Regions from separate parts of the Homo sapiens genome. Here all the other regions are linked to region 5. The links come from fine-mapping of genetic effects on plasma protein levels. Region 5 holds a variant in brackets. A gene starts in each other region. All regions are shown on their reverse strands. Distances are between the middles of the regions. Region 1 holds the start of FLT4 (fms related receptor tyrosine kinase 4). Region 2 holds the start of TIE1 (tyrosine kinase with immunoglobulin like and EGF like domains 1). Region 3 holds the start of CD200R1 (CD200 receptor 1). Region 4 holds the start of ICAM2 (intercellular adhesion molecule 2). Region 5 has its middle 35 kb from the start of ST3GAL6-AS1.

What was found. PIP is the posterior inclusion probability: the model's chance that the variant is causal. Protein levels are from antibody-based Olink assays in UK Biobank. Linkage for the fine-mapping came from a reference panel and not from the study's own genotypes, which makes the PIPs less certain.
Region 1: FLT4 starts here. The variant in region 5 is fine-mapped to the plasma level of the FLT4 protein (UK Biobank, PIP above 0.99).
Region 2: it holds the start of TIE1, and the variant in region 5 is fine-mapped to the plasma level of the TIE1 protein (UK Biobank, PIP 0.97).
Region 3: CD200R1 starts here. The variant in region 5 is fine-mapped to the plasma level of the CD200R1 protein (UK Biobank, PIP above 0.99).
Region 4: ICAM2 starts here. The variant in region 5 is fine-mapped to the plasma level of the ICAM2 protein (UK Biobank, PIP above 0.99).

The regions. Positions count from the first base shown.
Region 1 is chr5:180,647,024-180,651,172 of GRCh38, reverse strand. It overlaps FLT4 (fms related receptor tyrosine kinase 4), which reads left to right and starts at 1,573. Exons shown (of 30, transcript NM_182925.5): 1 at 1,573-1,685. The coding sequence starts at 1,628.
Region 2 is chr1:43,299,347-43,303,495 of GRCh38, reverse strand. TIE1 (tyrosine kinase with immunoglobulin like and EGF like domains 1) reads right to left here and starts at 2,514. Exons shown (of 23, transcript NM_005424.5): 1 at 2,367-2,514. The coding sequence starts at 2,424. RefSeq lists an enhancer at 2,455-2,544 and a silencer at 2,575-2,674.
Region 3 is chr3:112,973,174-112,977,322 of GRCh38, reverse strand. CD200R1 (CD200 receptor 1) reads left to right here and starts at 2,220. Exons shown (of 8, transcript NM_138806.4): 1 at 2,220-2,532. The coding sequence starts at 2,466.
Region 4 is chr17:64,019,022-64,023,021 of GRCh38, reverse strand. It overlaps ICAM2 (intercellular adhesion molecule 2), which reads left to right and starts at 2,389. Exons shown (of 5, transcript NM_001099789.2): 1 at 2,389-2,499. RefSeq lists enhancers at 1,950-1,999, 2,220-2,309, 2,055-2,555, 2,650-2,769.
Region 5 is chr3:98,695,736-98,699,884 of GRCh38, reverse strand. No RefSeq gene overlaps it. Among named protein-coding and RNA genes, the nearest start is that of ST3GAL6-AS1, 35 kb to the left of the region's middle. The variant C/A (reference allele first, on the strand shown) is at 1,829.

The DNA of each region.
Region 1 (4,149 bases), not on the chromosome of region 5:
ACAGCTACTCAGGAGGCTGAGGCGGGAGAATTGCTTGACCCCAGGAGGCAGAGGTTGCATTGCAGTGCAGTGAGATCGTCCCACTGCACTCCAGCCTGGGCAACAAAAGAGAGACTTTGAGAAAAAAAAAAAAAAGTACATTCTGAAAAAAAAAGCAAAACATATATTTTGATGATAAAATGATAAACAAAAGCAGGGAAATGATAATGCCAGGGTAGTGGGCATCTTCTGGGGTTGGTGAGGGGTTTGTGATGGGAAGTGAGGGGATGTGGGGATGTCATTCTACATCCCTTGGCCTGGAGAATGGAAACACAGGTATTTGTTGCTTTAAAATTCAGGTTTATAATATGCTGATATATTATGTACTTTCCATAAGTGTGTTACATCTCATAATCTTTCAAAGCTAAAAAAAATCAATATATGATTGATAAATACCTAACTTCATGTATCGCTTGGTTACCTAGTTTCCCCAACCTTATTTGTTAAATTATCTACACTATCCGCACTGATTTGTGATTCCAGCTTAATAATATAGCCACTTCTTACCTGGATTGGAGAGAGCTGGTAGTGGTTATTGAAAATCTACTCTTGCTTTTTGGCGAGGATGAAAGGGCTTTGGGGGGCGGGGGTGGGGGGATGGAAAATGTGAATGAAACGAAAAGCAGGGAAGGAGGTTGAGACAGTCATGGTCATGGGCTTCATTATTAAACAGGAAAATTCTAGAGACAAACTGAAAAGAGAACGGAAGTCTGTAAGAGGGTTGCCAAGTCAGAAAGCAAAAGCAAAGTGTCGCTTTATTAAAAAGGTGGGGGCGGGTCCTGATTGAGCTGAGAACAAAACATCTGGGGGAGTTCTAAAGCTAGGAGGCCAGGCCTGCAGGGAGGGGGTCGGTCATCCCGGGTGTCCCGCTCACGGGTGCGGCTTCCGTCGACACTGTCCGTCGACACTGTGCAGGTAAACACTGCTGAACGGGTTTTGTTTTTGCTTTTTTTTTTTTTTTTTTGGCTCCCAGACTGGAGTGCAGTGGCGCGATCTCGGCTCACTGCAACCTCCTTCTCCCGGGTTCAAGCGATTCTCCTGCCTCAGCCCCCCCGAGAAGCTGGGATTACAGGCGCGCACAACCAAGCTCGGCGTATTATTTTATTTATTTGCTTGTTTATTTTTGAGACTGGGTCTCCCTATGTTACGCCGGCTGGTGCCACTATTTTCAAAGATGTAACATACTATTTTTACAAGGATTGCTTTCTTGTTTAGTCTAGATTTTACCGATGGAAAGAAAGGACGGAAAAGAGCGCGTGCCGCATTTTGCTCCCCTTTGCCCACCAGGCTCCATCACCTCCGGAGCGCATCGCGAGACCGTCTGCGTTACCCGCGTCCCCGCGCCCGGAGCCGCCCAGGAGGGGGCCCGGACCCTGTGGTGCGGAGCGCGCACTGCTCGGGTGCACCGGACGCCCCGCGGCGGGCTGGGAGGGACGGGGGGAGGGGGGCGCGGGGAGCGGCCTGAATCCCGGGCCCGCCTCCGGCCCCCGCCCCGCCCCGCCCCGCCCCAGGCCAGCCGGCGCCCGCGCGGACACTTTCAGCCCCGAGCCGCGGCCGCTCGGGTCGGACCCACGCGCAGCGGCCGGAGATGCAGCGGGGCGCCGCGCTGTGCCTGCGACTGTGGCTCTGCCTGGGACTCCTGGACGGTGAGCGCGGCGAACGGGCCACCCGCCCGAGCGTGGGGCTGGCCGGGGAGGGGGTACCGCGCACCTGGGGCGGGCGCTGAGACCGCTCCGCCGGGTACGGGCGGGGGACACGGTGGCCCTGGTGCGCGGACGCCTGAGGGGAGCACGGCGCTTGGGGCGCGGGACCTCGGGATGAGGAAGGGGCGGGCGGGGACCGCAGCCGGGTCAGGGCCAGGGCGGCCGGGCCGCGCCTCGGCGCAGGGGTAGCTCTCCCGGCCCCTGAATCCGCGTCTCCGTCGGTGGCTCCGCGTCCTCGGAGCCGGGCCCTGCCGGGCTGCGCGCTGAGCCCGGATCCTTCGCGCCCTTACTCGCTTCCCCGCGGGGTCCCCGCGCCGCGCCGTCCCGACCCACGCGCGCCGGAGATCCATCCCGGCCGGGCCCCGGACTTGGGTGCGCACTTCCCGACGCCCAGCGCCTCCGCTCGCGGTCGGTCCCCCAGAGGGCGCTCGAGGCGGGCTTCCCCCTCCCCGTGGCCGGCGACGGCGGGGACAGGGGCCGGGGACCACCGCGCGCCCGAGGCGGACGGGTGCAGGTGCACGCTGGCACTTGAGACGAATCTTGAGGAGGCGAATCGCGGGCTGTCAGCGCCGCAGAAGGGGCGGAAGGCCAGGGGTCCCCGGATTTGAGGGGACAGGGGCCTCGAAGGCCAGCTGAGGAGCAGAGGCCCCCGCGGGAGGGTCCCCTGCACAGGAGAGGCGGGGTTCGGTTTGTGTTGGGATGTGGCTCTGGCGGGGAGAGACGCAGACCTGAAGCGGAGGCGGAGGGGTTGGAAAGAGGGACTGTGGGGGATGAGCGGGCGGCAGAGGGAGTGGATGGAGATGTCAGGGAGGAAGCTGAGAAGATGAGCTGGGAGTCCCCACGGAGCTGGTGTCCCTGGAAATCAAAGGGTGTAAGGGCGGGGTCAGGGGTTCCAGTGTCTGAAGCCCTGAAGTCAGCGACGGGGACCTCAACATTTCTGCACGCCATAGGAATTAAATACTGGCTTTACATGCTTGTAATTCTCACAGGGAGTGTCAGACCCATTTTACACATGGAGAAGCTTAGACCAAGGACATGTGTCACTTCCCCAAGGTCCCCAGGAGGCCCAAAGTAAGCCTGACAAAGCCTGCCTTTGCTCACCACCTGTATGTCCACTGGCTGAAGGGCAGAGGACAGGAGAGGGGGCAGGTCTGGCTCAACCAGGGGAGGAGGGAGGAGAACATCTATCTGGGCCTCCGAGTCGGGCAGGCCAGATCAGGGCGCTGCCCTTGGCCCTCCTGGACCCAGCCCAGGACCAGGCTCCCACAGGTGCTCAGGATGTATTTGTCGAGTGGCTGGTAGACCTTGGTTGGACTGCAGGGCTGTAGAATGGGAGACGCTTATCCTGGAGGAGACATGGGACAGGCACCTGGGCGCAGTGTCTGAGCTGGGCTGAGTAGCTGGAGAGGAAGAGAGAGACCCGGGAGGGGAACCCTGGAGGAGGGGCCCAGAGGGCAAGGGGGCTTCCAGGGATCCAGGGAACATTCTGCAGGTATAAGGAGAACCAGGAGAGGCCAGTGTCCTGGTGCTCCCGGGTGGAGCACAGAGGGACGTGGGGTGAAGGGTGAGGAAGCTATTCCCTGCAGTAAGTAGTGACTCTTAGTGACCCAGTTATGAAGAGGAGAGAGGGCATTAGTTGGGCGCCCCATGGAGAGGGGTGTCCTGGGCTGGACCTGGGTTTGGCTGGTGGGGAGATGGCAATGAAGACAGAGGTCATCCCTCCGTGAGCCCTGCACCTTGCTGTACCCCCTGCTAGGCTGAAGACCCCGGGAGCCCCCAGCTTGATGGGGGATGCCATGGCGGAAGCACAAGCCCTCAGCTGCAGTCGGGTGTCAGGGCAGCTGGTCCGGTGGGAGCTGCAGTCGGGTGTCAGGGCAGCTGGTCCGGTGGGAGCAGGCCAGAAGCCTGAGCATCCTGAAGCTGACCCCTTAAAAGTGTGCTATTGATCATAGAACCAGACTCTTGTCCTGCCTCTGCCGTAAAGTCCTTTCTGTGTGACCTGGGCCCCCTCCTTTCCCCTCCCTGCACCTCAGTTTCCCCAAGCATAGCCATGGCACAAGCATAGCCATGGCACAAGCATAGCCATGGCACAAGCTGGCAAGCCCCGAGGTTGTGTGGGTTGTGTGTGCTTGGGCTGGACTCCAAGACCCAGATGCCTGCTGCAGTTCCACAGTCTTGCCCCAGTGGAGAGGGTAGGTCACAGATGTCTCTTGGGGCTTAGTCTAGAGAGAGGCCATTGGCACCTCTGCACTGTGGCTACCAGCTCAGGGACATGCAGGAGCAGGGTCTGCTGGGCATCTGGAGTGGCCTGGTCTCAGGACGTTTGCCCTTGCTGTGACCTGGGTCACAAAGGCCCAGATGTGGACAGATGTGTGGCCCAGGGATGCAAGTCACTGCAGGCAGGATG
Region 2 (4,149 bases), not on the chromosome of region 5:
GTTTGAAAGGCTACCATGAGCAAACGAAGCTGGCATTTACTGACCGCCCACCACATACCAACCCCCATTTTCCACTGGATCCTCACAACCAGTGAAGTGGATATTCTTTCCAGTTACAGAGGAGGATCATGGTAATTATTCTACTGGCTTCTTTGAGCAAGCTCGCCCACTCCCCCAGTTTTAACCATCACCTCTGAGTCAGTAACTCGGGAACGGTCTTTCAGCTTGGACCTGCATTTCCATCAGCTTTTCCCAAATCTGCTCCTCTCCAGTGCTCCCTGACTCACTGGACAGCACCCGCCACTTGAGACACAAACTATGGAGTCATCTCTACTCCCATTGTCATAATAATGAATGTTTATTGGCTGCCAGTTATGCACCAGGCACTTTACTGATATTGTTTCATTTTACCATCCCAGCTATCCTGGGAGGTGGATGTTATTATCCCTGTTTTATAGCCAGGAAAGGGAGGCTCAGAGAAGTTAAGTAACTTGCCCAAGGTCATACAATTAGTGAGTGGCAGGGCCAGGTTGTCTGATTCTAAAGTCCACATCTCTGAGCACTGTGCTGCCTGCCTCATCAGTCATAGAATTCTGCACATTGTTTCCTGAACGCTTCTTGACTTCATCCCCACCCCCCCAGCCTGCCTTTGTTCAGCCCTCATCCTTACTCACCTAGACCATCCCAACAGCCACAGCCCCTCCTTCTGCAACTCATCCTCCACGGTGATCTAAGACCAAACCTGACCTTGTGACTTTCTTGCCTGTGACCTCCCATGGCTCCCTATTGCCCTCAGGATAATGTTCGTGCTCCTAAGCCCCGTGATGCTCCCACGCTATCCCTCCTGTTGTGTTCCTAACAGGCACCTTCTCTCCCATGCACCTCCATGCCTCTGAGACTTGCATTTTTTATGTTCTGGCTGCCTGGAATGAAGACCACCCCTCTTAGTGAAATCTTCCTTGATTCCCTTTTTGTCTCCTACCTGAGGCAGTGTAAGCTGAACTCCTCCTCAGTGCTCCTCTAGAGCTCCTGTGTCTGTCCCTGTTTAGCCCTCTTCCCCTGTCCTGTGTTCTGCACTAGACCATGAACCACTCAAAGGCAGCCTCTGTGTTCTAATCGGCTGACCAGCAGACTGAAGGAATCAGCTGCCACCTACTCAGAAATCCTTACCAAGCACAGTGCACTGTGCCAACTGCTCTGCATCATTTTCTCATTTAAACCCCATAACAACCATAGGAGGCTGGCATCATTTAATCTCATTGTACAGACTAGGTGTTGCCAGCCTCTCAACTAATGGCCCAGCACTTAGCACAACTCCTGGAATATTGTTGGTGCTCAATAAATGTTTGTCCAGTGAACAACTGAGTGAATCCAACACAATTACCCTATGAACACCCCCTGAAAATGGCCCTCCACAGATCCTCAGATCCAACACAGTCAGCGGCTACTCCTCACTCCTCCCCTGATCCCAGGTTGCAGTGATTTCTAGCACTTGCCTGTGTTTTCCTGGCCTTGATCTCACTTTCTAGTGGATCAAAGTGATGGCAGTGATGATAGGGCTTGTTTTCCAAAATTTTTTGTTGTGGTGAAATGCATATAAAATAAATTTTACCATCTTTTTTTCTTTTTAGATGAGTCTTGCTCTGTCGCCCAGGCTGGAGTGCAGTGGCGCGATCTCAGCTCACTGCAACCTCTGCCTCCCAGATTCAAGCGATTCTCTTGCCTCAGCCTCCCAAGTAGCTGGGATTACAGGCTCCTGCCACCACGCCCGGCTAATTTTTGTATTTTTAGTAGAGATGGGGTTTCACCATGTTTGCCAGGCTGGTCTCGATCTCCTGACCCTGTGATCCACCCGCTCGGCCTCCCAAAGTGCCGGGATTACAGGCGTGAGCCACCACACCCGGCAAATTTTGCCATCTTAACCATTTGTAAGCAGCATATAACCCAATGTGATTAAATACATTCCTAGTGTTGTCCCACCATCACCACCATCCATCCTTTTTTTTTTTTTTTGAAAAAGACGAAAGTCTAAACACAATGGAGACGGGGTCTCACTATGTTGACCAGTCTGGTCTTGAACTCCTGGCCTCAATTGATCCTCCCATCTCAGCCATCCAAAGTGCTGGGATTACAGGTATGAACCACCGCACCCGGCCCCATGTTTATAACTCTTTTAATCTTGTAAAACCAAGTAAAAATCTTGTAAAAACGCTGTACCTTTTAAACAAAACTCCCCATTTCTTCCTCCCTGCAGCCCATGGCAACCATCATCCTACTTTCTGTCTCTATGATAAAATAGGGTTTCTTGGGTAGAAATCAGGGCCTCGGGGCCTAGAAATGGGGTGAGGGACTCAGGGGAGACTTACCCACATGAGAAGCCAAGAAGAGGATGGGGAGCAAGAAAGGGGGCACCCGCCAGACCATACTCCAGAGGCCGACCCAGGCCAGCCAGGACGAGCTGGGCCTGGGGTCAGATGCTGTGGGCCTGACTGCTCAGCCTGTGTTGGTCAGTGTGGGTCGGTGCTGGGGAGGAAGAGGAAATGAGGTGGCTTGGGTGGGAGGGGTGGCAGGGTAGGGGGTGGGAGGACTCATTCTGCCTTTGAGCCTCTAGGCCCCCCAATCTGGCCCCCACAAGGCTGGGGATGGGTGTGGCCTGGGAGGAGTCACTTGAGGTGGGGGGAAGGTTATGGTAAGGGCAGACCTGGGGACAGCTGGACTGATTTTTCCCATCCCCTGTCTCTCTCCAGTACTCAGTCTTGCTGGCACAAAGGAGGCAGGAGGCAGGAAAGGGAGGAAGCCAGTGGCTTCCGCCTATTGAGGAGGGGGGTGGGGTGGGGGACATTGTTCTGGGGTCTCCCCTCCCCCCGGCACAAACACACAATACGGCCCACATGAGTCCTCATGTATGTGCCCCAGGACACAGACAGTTACATGGGTTTCCTAGAGAGCAGTTCACATACGAAACACAAAGGACCTCTGTGGGCCTGAGAAGCACATACACTCAAAGGAACACAGGGCCCTGGCAACAAAGAGCCTTCGAGTCTACCTTGTGTACCTCTCTCATTGTACAGATGGGAAAACTGAGGCTTGCTGTGCTCGAGGGCACCCTGAGGCTGTGGCAAGGCTGGGACTTGAACTTCTGACTTAGTCCTTGCTTTCTTGGTGCCAATCGCTCCACAAGGGCTCACATTAAGCAGTCCCGGGGAGCACACAGGGAGTATCGGTTGCATAGATAGTCCTCAGCTTAAGCTGCTAATGAAAGCTTCAGCTTATTGTCTGCCAGGTGTCATTCATTTTGCGGCAAACCCCTGCCTATTCCTGGGCACTGGGGCAGCAGAAGTCTGCCCAGGGAGGTGCACTCACTCTTGACGGCTGACAACAACCTGGGAGCAGTCGCACTGCTTTGGCAAAGTCTCTAAAGCCCCATGGATCTTGCCTCTGCTTCCCTCCCAGACTCACCTCTCCCTGCCCTGGCACCCGTTGCTCCACCTCTTGCCACCACTGGCAGTTCCCAGAACGGAACAAGACCTGTAGGTACAGAACGCCCACGAGGAGGCCCTTCCAGGGAGCAGAGGGAGCAACCGTTGGATGGGCAGCCTTGCTGGTTAAATCGATGACCCCTCTGACCCGGAATGGAATGGTTGGGATGGATGAGACTTGGTGTCAGTTTAGGTGACTTAGGTCTGGTAGTACAAACCCTCCCCCTGGGCCTGGGACATCTTCCCAGAGTGTGTTCTGGGTGAAGGCTTCATTCTCCTCTGAATGCACCGGGCTCACATTCACTTTTCTCAGGAGGCTGGGTCCCTGCAGCTTGGTTGAGCTGGTTTAGGCCCAGGGCTCTTCTGAAGCGCCCTGAAAAGTCCCAGGAGACGCTTTGACTCCTGGAGTAGCATAGAAAAGGATCGGGAAAGACCTCCCTACTGATGTGTGACCCACAGAGATTCCCATTCCTGGGCCTGAGGCTGGGAGGAGCTTTCTCTAGACAAGGCTTTGGGTGGGATGGGAGTAGGAGCAGGGGGAGAGTGGTGGATGCCTTACACTTCAGCTCATCCTGGTGCCAGACCTTTGAATCTGGAATGAAAAAGGAGCTGGAAAGTGCTGGGACTGTTTGTATGGCAGGATTCACTTTTGTGGAACTTTTCCTTTGGT
Region 3 (4,149 bases), 14 Mb before region 5:
AGGTAGAAGGTGGGAGTTGAGAGGTTACAGGCATGTGATTTGGGGGTGGAGAGGATGAGGGACCAGGGAGAGAAACTGTCATCCTGCCAAATCTATTTAGTGAATTTTATGGTTTTTGATACCCATCACTTGATTCTTAAACTGCTGATTGCAGATTGTGGTCTGACCTCAGGTGAGTGCATTGGAGTGTGTCTATGAAAGTTGTTGCCTGAAATTTCAAAGTAGAGGAGTTGAGTGAAAAGAACACAGGGCTACGAAATATAACACATTTTATTCCCAGCCGTGCCAATAAGTTGTTTTGAGGCCACAGGCCATTTAGCCCTTCTGTGGTTTAGTTTTGGCTATGTCATTGAGCAGATATTAAAATAAATGATCTCCAAGAATTTTTGATGACATGAGAAAAAGCTAATGTCAATATAATATAAACAGATACAGACTTGAGTAAGAAACTTTCCCAGTATCACTGGACTAGTAATTGCACAACAGAGACTTAACCCTATGTCTATCTGTATCCTAAGCGAGTGTGAATTTTAACTTTAACTTCTCTCTGCTCACTGCAACCTCTGCCTCCTGGGTTCAAGCGATTCTCATGCCTCAGCCTCCCAAGTAGCTGGGACTACAGATGAGTGCCATCACACCTGGCTAATTTTTTTTTTTTTTTTTAAGTAGAGATGGAGTTTGGAGTTTTGTCATGTTGCCCAGGCTGGTCTCGAACTCCTGAGCTCAGGCAATCTGCCCGCCTCGGCCTCCCAGTGTCCTAAGATTACAGACATGAGCCACTACTCCCGGCCAACTTTCACTTCTATGTAGTGGAAAACCAGAATATTATCTGTATTTTAAATGATGTATTCTCACTAATTTTCCGACACCTGGTGAAACATTAGACAGAAGAGAAGACATTTTTGTTTTGGTCTTCCCATTGTCACAGCTCATACCCTTAAGTGTTCCATGCCCTCAAGGATCTGGTTTCACTGTCTTCATCAAATTAATTAACTGGAAAAAAAAGCTTGAGAAGGGGAAGGGGGGAAATATTTATAATGTTTGGCAAGAAGGAAGATGAAACTGCTAACTGAGAAAAAAAATGCATGCTGTTTAATCTTTTTCCTGTTTGCAATGTTTTCTTCCCCTTCCTGTACAGTTTTGCCTTGGGGCAGAAAATTCTCAGCACATAGAAGATTTTTCCCTCTCTCAGACATAACTTAAAAGCATAGTAACATAGTAACTAGCAACAGTAAGGAAGAGGTTTTTTTGTTGTTGTTGTTGTTTTTTTTTTTTGGTTAGGGGGAGTCTGAATTCCAGATGTGTGGCAACTAAGAGATGGGTGATTATTTGTAATTTGGTTAAAATGATCAGTCTAATTTTCCAAAGGTGAAACTGAATGGCAATAAGTACTGAGTTCTGATAAACAGAATGCCCTCACCCCCAACAAGGTAGATACCTATGTCCGAATTACCGAAACCTGTGAATGTTACCTTGTGTGGCAAAAAGGACTTTGCAGATGTGATTAAATTAAGATCTTGAAATTAGATCATGTTGGATTATTTGGGTGGACCAAAAATAATCACAAGGTCTTTATAAAAGGGAGGCATAAGGGTCACAGTCAGAGAAGATGTGACAGTGGACCAGAGGTCCGAATGATGTAGCTGCAAGCCAAGAAATGCAGGCATTCTCAAATCGCTGGAAAAGGCAGGGAGCAAATTCTGCCCGAGCCTCCAGATGGAGTGCAGCCCTTCCAACACCTTGATTTTAGTCCCCTAAGATCCATTTCAGACTTCTGATCACCAGAACTGTAAGATAATAAATGTTGTGTTGTGTTAAGCCACTGAGTTTGTGGTAATTTCTTACAGTAGCAATAGGAAACTAATACACATATGATGTTTACAGGGTTGTGTGTTGACTCCCATTATAGACAGGAATTTCACACAATAATTTTCAAGAAAACATATTGTATTCCAGACTCAAATACTAAGGCCGTAAAGCTCTTCAACCTGGAGAAAGCCTCTAAAAGTCATCATAATTGGGAAATTTACAAGGATGGGCCAAAGTAGATCAATATTCTGTTTTACTTTTTGGTGCAAGTTTAGACAAATCTGTTTATCTTGGACACGTTCAATGCCTTACTGTAAAGTTTGTCTGTGTACAGCAGAAGTGAGAGGAGAACCAATGAGCTGAGAGATAATTCAATCAATCTGCTTCCTCCGTCTTTGCTTCAGGGCTTCATACAGGAAATCTATTGCTGTGTCAAGTTCCAGAGAAAAGCTTCTGTTCGTCCAAGTTACTAACCAGGCTAAACCACATAGACGTGAAGGAAGGGGCTAGAAGGAAGGGAGTGCCCCACTGTTGATGGGGTAAGAGGATCCTGTACTGAGAAGTTGACCAGAGAGGGTCTCACCATGCGCACAGTTCCTTCTGTACCTGTGTGGAGGAAAAGTACTGAGTGAAGGGCAGAAAAAGAGAAAACAGAAATGCTCTGCCCTTGGAGAACTGCTAACCTAGGGCTACTGTTGATTTTGACTATCTTCTTAGTGGCCGGTAAGTTTGAATTCTCTTTGGGAGAACAGTGAGAAACCTGGTCTCAGCTCTTCCTGAGTTTATTTTTTGTCTTTCTTCTGGGGCAATACAAATCAATTGCAATAATAAATATAGGGGGTTGCTAAATATGGGTTACTCCCATATCTAGTTTACTTTATTATCCTTTTTTCCGGTGTCTTGCTTGTTGTACTTTGTATCCTACTACAATATACAGATCTCTATAATTTGTCTTACTGTCCATTTCCTTATTTCCTCCTGTTTTTTGAACAAGGCAGGATAAATCAAATACATACTAGCAGCAATCAAAGTCAGTTAGGTTCTCTTTATCTTATTCTCTTCCCCAACCCCCTTTTTTGAGACAGGGTCTTGCTCTGTTGCCCAGGCTGGAGTGCAGTGGTGCAATCGTAGCTCACTGCAGCCTGTAACTCCAGGTCTCAAGCAGTCCTCCCACTCAGCCTCCTGAGTGTCTAGGACTACAGATATGCGCCACTATGCTTGGCTAATTTTTAAAATTTTTGGTAGAGATAGAGTCTTGCTATATTGTCCATGCTGGTCTTGAGCTCCTGTCTTCAAGCAATTCTCCCACCTCAGACTCCCAAAGCATTGGGATTACAGGCATGAGCCACTGCACCCAGCCTCTTCTCTCTTAATTTTTTTTTTTAAGATAAGAACGCTAACTCATTTAGGTCCACATTGCCAGTGGCATAGATTAGGACAGTTTATTGCTTTCTGTCACTTTCGATGATTAGGCACTTCAAAAATATAATATGCCTACAGTTACAGTGGTGCGTCTGTGATGTATGTCTGTATTTATCTTCAAGATGTGTGGGCTGTAAGAGACACTACGAGTTAGAGAACAGACTCTTCAACATCTAGGTTCCTATAGAAGTTATAGAGAACTTGGGCCACTGTGGGGGTGTCCTGGTTTCACTGTAGAAGGTTGGTAGGAGTTGGTGTGGGAGGGAGTTTTCAGGTTTCACTTTTGGTAGACAGAGCAGCTGCAAGGGAAGAGTGTAGTTGGTTTTAAATGTTATAATTTGATAATTGAAAGAAGAAAAGGTATTTTTCCTCATTTCTGAATGACTTTAAAATGCTGCTTATCTTCCACAAAAAATCTTCTTTCCACATGTTAATCTTACTAGTGAACACATGCAAAATAACTACACTCTTTGACTGCACCTTTCTATTGAGAATTTTCACATGCTTTTTTCCCTTTGATCTGCACAGCAACCCAGTGAAGTAGACATGGAAGACACCTCTCCATTTTACAAAGGTAGAAATGGAGGCGTAGAGAGGTGAAATGATTTGGCCAAGGTTAGATATGACTAGTATGTGCCAGAATCACAATCAGTAATGATATACATCAGTAAGCACCACTAAACATTTGAGTGGGCAATTTTCCTCATTATTTAACCATTGTGCTTTTCACTGAAGAGCATCAGTGAAAAAAGTCAAGCCAATACTTAGTTTTAGCCTTAATAGACTGTTACTCACCTAAAAAGTCAAGTGATCTGAATCTTTCAGTAGTTCAGATCTTGTTGTAGAAAGCTCTTATAGCAACTTGTGTAGGACCCAGCTTGGCTGGGGCAGCCAGATAGGCAAGGAGCTGTTTATGTC
Region 4 (4,000 bases), not on the chromosome of region 5:
ATTGCGCCAGAGCAATGTGTGGCCTTGACTGTCCTCCTGGCCTCTGAATGGTCTAATTTGTGACTTTGCTAAGCCAGAAGTTTCAATGTGCTGTGAGGCTGGCCCGTGGGAGCAAGATCCTCTGCTCGTGGGTGAGCCTAGCTGGCTGCCCGCCACCCACCTCTGCACCCAGTGTTCATACTTTCTGCTTGTTTGTACAAAGTCACTCTTCTAGAGTAATTGTTGTAAAATTGCTAGGCAAGGTGGCAGGTCTGATAAGATTTGATGAAGTGATAGGTCTTAGTCACTAATAAGAGGCTTTTTTGGAATGGTGTGTCACAGCCAAGGAAGCCTCAGCTCTGTGATCTTCGCCTGCCTCACTTGGGGGACCAGAAGGTAGCTTGTCCTGGAACTGCCTCATTCACAGAAGGCCCCAGTGAGTACAGAAACTGCACATCAAAGGGAGGAGTAAGGAAAACAGGATGGCAAATCTTCAAAAATTAAACAAAATTACTTTTTTTTTTTTTTGTAGCGATGGGGTCTCACTTTGTCACCCAGGCTGGTCTTGAAGTCCTAGACTCAAGCAATCCTCCCACCTCAGCCTCCCAAAGTGCCGGATTTACAAGTGTGAGCCACCAAGCCCAGTCAGAATTACCACTAAAAAAAAAAAAGAAAAAAGGTTAAGATGGTAGATTTTGTTGTGTATATTTTACCATTATGATCCAGCATTTCCACTTCTGGGTACATACCCCAGAGAACTGAAAGCAGAGTCTTGAGCAGGTATTTGTACAACCCTGTTTGTAGCAGCACTATTCACAATAGCCAAAGGTGGAAGCAACACAGGTGTCCATCAGTATATGAATGCATGAACAGAATGCGGCACACACGCACAATAGGATATTGCTCAGCCTTCAAAAGGAAGGCAGTTCTGGCCAAGCGTGGTGGTTCATGCCTGTAATACCAGCACTTTGGGAGGCTGAGGTGGGCGGATCATTTGAGGTCAGGAGTTCGAGACCAGCCTGGCCGACATGATGAAACCCCATCTCTACTAAAAATACAAAAATTAGCCAGTCGGCACGTGCCTGTAATCCCAGCTACTCAAGAGGCTGAGGCAAGGCCAGGCACGGTGGCTCATGCCTGTAATCCCAACACTTTGGGAGGCCAAGGCGGGCGGATTGCCTGAGCTCAAGAGTTTGAGACCAGCCTAGGCAACATGGTGAAACCCCATCTCTGCTAAAATACAAAAGAAATTAACCAGGCGTGGTGGCGTGCACCTGTAGTCCCAGCTACTCAGGAGGCTGAGGCAGGAGAATTGCTTGAACTCGGGAGGCGGAGGTTGCAGTGAGCCGAGATCACACCACTGCACTCCAGCACTCCAGCCTGGGCGACAGAGTGAGGCTCCATCTCTACAAAACAAACAAACAAACAAACAACAACAACAACAACAAAAACACTGAGGCAAGAGAATCGTTTGAACCTGGGAGGCAGAGGTTACAGTGAGCCAAGATCACACCACTGCACTCCAGCCTGGGCAACAGAGCGAAACTCCATCTCAAAAAAAAAAAAAGAAAGAAAAGAGAAAGAGAGAGCTCCAGAGATGGATGGTGGTGATGGTTGCAGAACAATGTGAATGTACTTAGTGCCCCAAACTGTACACTTAAACATAATTAAAATGGGCCTAGCACGGTGGCTCATTCCCAGCATTTGGGAGGCTGAGGTGGGAGGATTGCTTGAGCTCAAGAGTTTGAGACCAGGCTGGGCAACATAAGCAACACTCTGTCTCTACAAAAACTACAGAAATTAGCCAAGCCTGGTGGCTGCACACTTGTAGTCCCAGTCACTTGGGAAGTTGAGGAGGGAGGGTCACTTGAGCTCAGGGGTCAGAGGTTGCCACGAACTGTGATTGTGCCACTGCACTCCAGCCTAGGTGACAAAAGCAAGACTCTGTCTTAAAAACAACACAACAAAAAATTGGCTGGACGCAGTGGCTCTTGCCTGTAATCCTAGCACTTTAGGAGGCCGAGGAAGGCAGTTCACTTGAGGTCAGGAGTTCGAGACCAGCCTGGCCAACATGGTGAAACCCTGTCTCTACTAAAAATACAAAAATTAGCCAGGCGTGGTGGCAGGTGCCTGTGGTCCCGGTTACTCTGCGGGCTGAGGCACAAGAATCACGTGAACTCGGGAGGCAGAGGTTGCAGTGAGCCGAGATCACACCACTGCACTCCAGCCTGGGTGACTGAGACTCAGTCTAAAAAAAAAAAAAAAATTGAAATGGTAAATTCTGTTGTGTACGTTTTACCACAATTAAAAAAAAAAAAAGCGGAATGGGAGTGGAGCTAAATGAGGCTAGTTTAGGGTGGGAACCGGGGCACAGGAAGCACGTCACTTCTGGTGGGGAGTGGGGGGAGGGAGAAGACTGAATAAGCCGTGAACTGGGCAGCTGTGACACGCGCACCTTGTCACCTTGTCACCAATTTCCTGCCCGGGATCCCAGAGCTACCCTTCTTGGAGCCCACAGGGGTAAGGTTGAGCTTCTCACTTTCCCTCCAATGAAGCGTGGCAGCATGGGAAGGATTTTGGCAGTGTCGAGGTCTGAGTTTTAGTCCGTTCCCCTCTCTGGGTCTCAGTTTCTCGCTGGTAAGTGCAGGGGTTGGGGAATCCCCAGCGCTCCTGTGGCTCGACATTCTGCACTCTGTGAAGCTCCTGCCCTGCCCTGCTGGGTCTCTGAGCTCACGCACTTGCCCTGGCGCTCCTTTCCTGATTTGTCTCCCCTCTCTCCTTCCTCTGCTCTGCCATCTCGGTGGCCGATGTAGAAATGTGGGGCTGCCTCCTTATTTAGGGGCCCACGTGGGCTGTGATCTGGACCATCTGAGCTGATGCAGAGGGGAAGGGACAGTCCCTGTTCTCCCCGGCAGGCGTGGTGGGTTCATAATGAATCTCAGTCACTCACTTCCTACCTGCCTCGGTTCGAGGGGGTCTTTCCTAACCCATGGCTCACATTCCCATGAAGCCTCTTCTTTCTAGGCACGTAGAAAGGCCCTTTTTCCCTTTTATTATTTTTGTAAAATTTACTAGGTAACGCATAAAAAGCTTATGTAACATACATATACATCATACTGCACAGTAATATACCAAACACACCTGAAGCTGCCACTCAGCACAAGGATGGAGTATCACCAAACTGCAAACACCACTTATCTGCTTTTTTTTTTTTTTTTTTTTTTTGAGACAGAGTTTTCATTCTTGTCGCCCAGGCTGGAGTGCAGTGGCACAATCTTGGCTCACCACAACCTTCGCCTGCTGGGTTCAAGCGATTCTCTTGTCTCAGCCTCCCAAGTAGCTGGGACTACAGGTGCGCATGCCACCATGCCCAGCTAATTTTTGTGTTTTTGGTAGCGACAGGGTTTCACTATGTTGGCCAGGAGAGTCTCGATCTCTTGACCTCATGATCCGCCCACCTCGGCCTCCCAAAATGCTGGGATTACAGGCGTGAGCCACCACACCTGGCCACCACTTGTCCACTTTTATGCTACTTGCCTCCCACCCACAGGTAGCCACCCTCTGGAATTTTGTGTTTATTGTTCTCTTATTTTTAAGTGCTTTATTACATATGCATCTCTATTTATTTATTTATTTATTTATTTACTGAGATGGGGTCACACTATATTTCCCAGGCTGGAGTGCAGTGGCTATTCACAGGCATGATCATAGCACACTACAACCTCGAACTCCTGGGATCCAGTGATCTTCCCACCTCAGCCTCCTGATTAGTTGGGACTACAGTCTTGAACTGCTGCACCTGGCTATGCCTATTTATTTTTATTTTATGAAACAGTTATATAGCGTTACTGTGTGCTAGGCACTGTTCTAAATGCTTTAAAATATTTACTTATTTTATTTGTTTAATCTGCACAAAAACCCTATGAGGAAGATACTATTATTGATTCCTTTTTGCAGATGAGGAAATTGAGGCACAGAAAGATTAAGTGATTTGCTCAAGGTCACACAGATAGTGAGAAGT
Region 5 (4,149 bases):
CAAAATAATATATTTATAAATAAATCTAAAAGATGTATGAAATGTTATTTATGGATAGAAAGAGTCAACATTAAAAATATGCCAGTTCCTCTAAATGTATCTATAGATTTAACACAATTCCAGTGAAAATTTCAACAGGGTATTTTTTGGTTCCACTGTACTTGATAAGCTCATTCAAAATGTATAGAGCTGAAAAAAAAGCCAAGAATAGCCCCAGGACTCTTCTGAAGGAAAAGGTGTGTATGGTGGGGAGAGATTTGCCTCAGCAGATATCAAGCTATATTGAATTTTAGTATCCAACTGGTGTAGACACAGACAAGTAGACAAACCACCCTCTAGCCAACTCATTTGCCTGGAATAACAGTTATGTTTATTTTATAATTTTTAAGTCAACTATTTTGGCTGGGATCAATTGGATGCTTTTCTCAACTGGCTCATTTAGTTCAGAGTGCCTCTGAGCAGGTAAAACTTGCTCTGACAGCTCTGCTCCTGAAGGTTGATCAGCTGTTGGCTGGGTGACAGCGGTGGTTGGGACACACATCTCTTGTCATCCAGCAGGTATTCCCTGTGGGTTTGCAAGGGGCAAACTGTTATGTTTAGAGCCAAAGTGATCTAGGCCTGAAACTATTCCTTCTGCAGATGAGATCCTTGCACCACAGTCTCATCTAATAATGGTTTGGGATCTCATAATCTAAATCAGATCAGATGAGTCTCTTCCGATATTGCTCTTCTAGTTTTAGAAGCCAATGAACTAAAAAGACAAATTATCTGCCCCAACACACGTGATATATAATGATGAAGCAGGGACAGGATTATTTCAATAAACATATTGAAATATCTGTTTAAGTCTTCTTGTATAATTTTTACAACCATTTCTTTGTCCACATGGTCAAATTCAGATTCAAGGAATAGAACAGAATTTACCTCTTCATGGGAGTAGTTGCAAAGTCACATTGTGAATGGATAAGCATACAGGGATAGATAGAATTTGTGGCCACTTTTGCAATTTATCAATAACATCGATTTTTTTTTTTTCTGAGGGGGACAGAGTCTTACTCTGTTGCCCAGGATGGAGTGCAGTGGTGCTGTCTCAGCTCACTGCAACCGCCGCCTCCCGGGTTCAAGAGATTCTCCTGCCCCAGCCTCCCAAGTAGCTGGGATTACAGGCACCCGACACCACGCCCTGCTAATTTTTTTGTATTTTTAGTAGAGACGGGGTTTCACCGTGTTAGCCAGGATGGTCTTGAACTCCTGACCTCGTGATCCGCCCGCCTTGGCCTCCCAAAGTGCTGGGATTACAGGCGTGAGCCACCACGCCCATCCAATAACATGAAATATTTTAAAGTAGTAGTTTAAACATTTATTTTGTGGCGGGGCGCAGTGGCTCACATGTGTAATCTTAGCACTTTAGGAGGCTGAGGCAGGTGGATCATGAGGTCAGGAGTTCGAGACCAGCCTGGTCAACATGGTGAGACCCTGTCTCTACTAGAAATACAAAAATTAGCCAGGCTTGGTGGCAGGTGCCTGTAATTCCAGCTACTCAGGAGGCTGAGGAGGAGAATTGCTTGAACCCGGGAGGAGGAGTTTGCAGTGAGCTGAGACCACGCCACTGCACTCCAGCCTAGGCAACAGAGTGAGACTCTATCTCACGAAAAAATTATTTTGTATATTAGCCACCTATATAACGATAATGTATATAAATAGATATTTCAAATAATATTCTTGGTAATTTTAGTGTTTCTGGCAACAGCTTGTGGCAGGAATAAAAGTGTTAGCCCTGCAGTTTTCTAATTGTTCCCTCGTACATGCATTATTAACACCTTCAATT[C/A]TTTGCTGGAATAGATTTTTTAGTCACCTACCCATTTTGTGAGGACTAGTTAGGTTAAAATCAGAGCCAGAATATGTAAATTCACTTAACAAGGCACCTGTGTTCTGCAATATATAGCAAACCAATGAGCAATGGTGCTGTTGCGTTGTCATTGTGTATCTTCTACTTGTCCCTTAGGCCCTTTTCACATTGTACATGACAGGTGATTGGCTGACAATCATAAGGGAAGTGTCAATATATGTTTTTAAAATATTTTAAACTAAAACTACATATAAAGAGAATGCATATATCCTAATACAGCATATTCTACTTGCACCCTAATGGATTGTCTGGTGTACTCTCTAGAGATTGTTTGCACCGGTATTTCGATAATTTCCTCATCATCAAGGCTACCCACAACATTTTGGAAAACTTGCATCACTTTAACTAAGTCATTTGTACATAACTTTTAAGCGGGGTAGTGGGAGGTCTGGTCATTCTCTTTTTGGAAAGCAAAGAAGCCTGTATTATCCAGTCTGCCCTATTTTCAGTTCTGGCTGAGAAAGAATGTAGACCTTCTTCTAAGTCTCAGTAGATAGATGAACTGACAGACAAATAGATAAATTAGATAATTCATAGGCAGAAATGTATCATTTTATTTGATTAACCTGATTTTTGTTTTGTTTGCCCTCAAGCTTTAGGAGAAAGAAATGAATCACAAGAAAAGCTAATAGTCAGAAGTTATTCATGAATCTAAATTCCTGGTTATGTCTGGTGGTCAGTACAGAATTTGACCCAATGCTTTCTATGTGTTTAGCCCTTCAACAGTGATTTCAAATGTTCCTATTCGTAATTCCTAAGGTACTACAAAAATATCACCTTTCCTTTATGAAAAGTTTATATAGAGAGGGGTTATATATGAGATACGTGTGTGTGTACATATATATATATTTATCATATATATGATAGTTAATTTTATGTGTTAACTTGGCTGGGTCATGCTGCTCAGATATGTGATCAAACATTATTCTGGATATTTCTGGATAGGGGAGTATGGATGAAAATAGCATTTAAATTAGTGGACTTTGAGTGCAGCAGCTTGCTCTCCATAATGTGAGTAGACATCATCCAATTACTTCAATAGAACAAAACAATAGTTTCCCCAGAGAAGGGAGAATTTTCCAGAAGATGGCCTTCAGTAGTGAACTGCACCATTAACTCTCCCCTGGTCTCCAGTCTGCTGGCCCAACCTGCAGATTTTGGATTTGCCAACCTCCATATTCATGTGAGCCAATTCCTCTATCTATCTATCTATCTATCTATCTATCTATCTATCTATCTATCATCTATCTATCTATCTATCTATCTACATATATATACATGCACATACACATCATGTTGCTTCTGTTTATATATAATTTGTATATAAACATACATATGAAATTTATAAGAAAAGGAAGTAGATGAGTTTAAAGAGAGGTTTACAGCAATGCATTGTCATAGAAAGGAATTTCTGGCCTAATAGAATTTGCCATTCTTTAATTATACTAAATAAAGATTCTCCTGTGCTTGCTCAGAATTCACCAGTGCTTACGAAATTCTGGTTTGGGGACACTCATTTAGGTTTTGAGTCCAACTGCTCGTTAGAATCCTGGTTCTGCCATTTTCTGGCACTGTGACCTTGGGTAAATGACTTCATTTCTCTCACCCCATTTTTCTCATCTACAAAATGAGGCCGTTTATACCTACCCTATGCCTAGGACAGTTGTGAGGACTGAATCAGCTAATTATGAGATGTTTTCAATAGTATCTGGCATGAAAAACATGAAAGTTCTTTAACTCTCTTCTTTAATTTTGAGTGAGCTTATTTGGTTTCTGTCCAGAGGATACTTGTTGTCTTTTTGCCACACTTAGTACTTTGATTCTTGAAAGGAAAAGTATCATAACCCCTTAGGTTGTGGCAAAAGAATTATCCAGAGATATATGGAAAAAATGGTTTTTATAGAGACAATAAATAACATCCTGAATTTGTATTAGGTGGCCAAAGAGGAAGATGACTCATGAATCATATGAAAATTCTTTCAGAAATGCAAATATTTCTCATCTACTGTTTTAAAGGTCTGGTATGTTCTCTTTTTCACCTCATAGAATTTAAATCTCCTGAGGGTCAAAGGGTTTCAAAGAGGAATTTGCATTAAAAAAAATTATTCCTGATATTTGATAGAATTTCTGCTTCTTTGGTAAGTGGGAGTAGAAGGGAGCTGGGAAATTCTTATTTCATACATTTCTGATGGAATCTTATTGACTGAGTAAGCAGGGGGAAATTTTTATGTAAAATACTT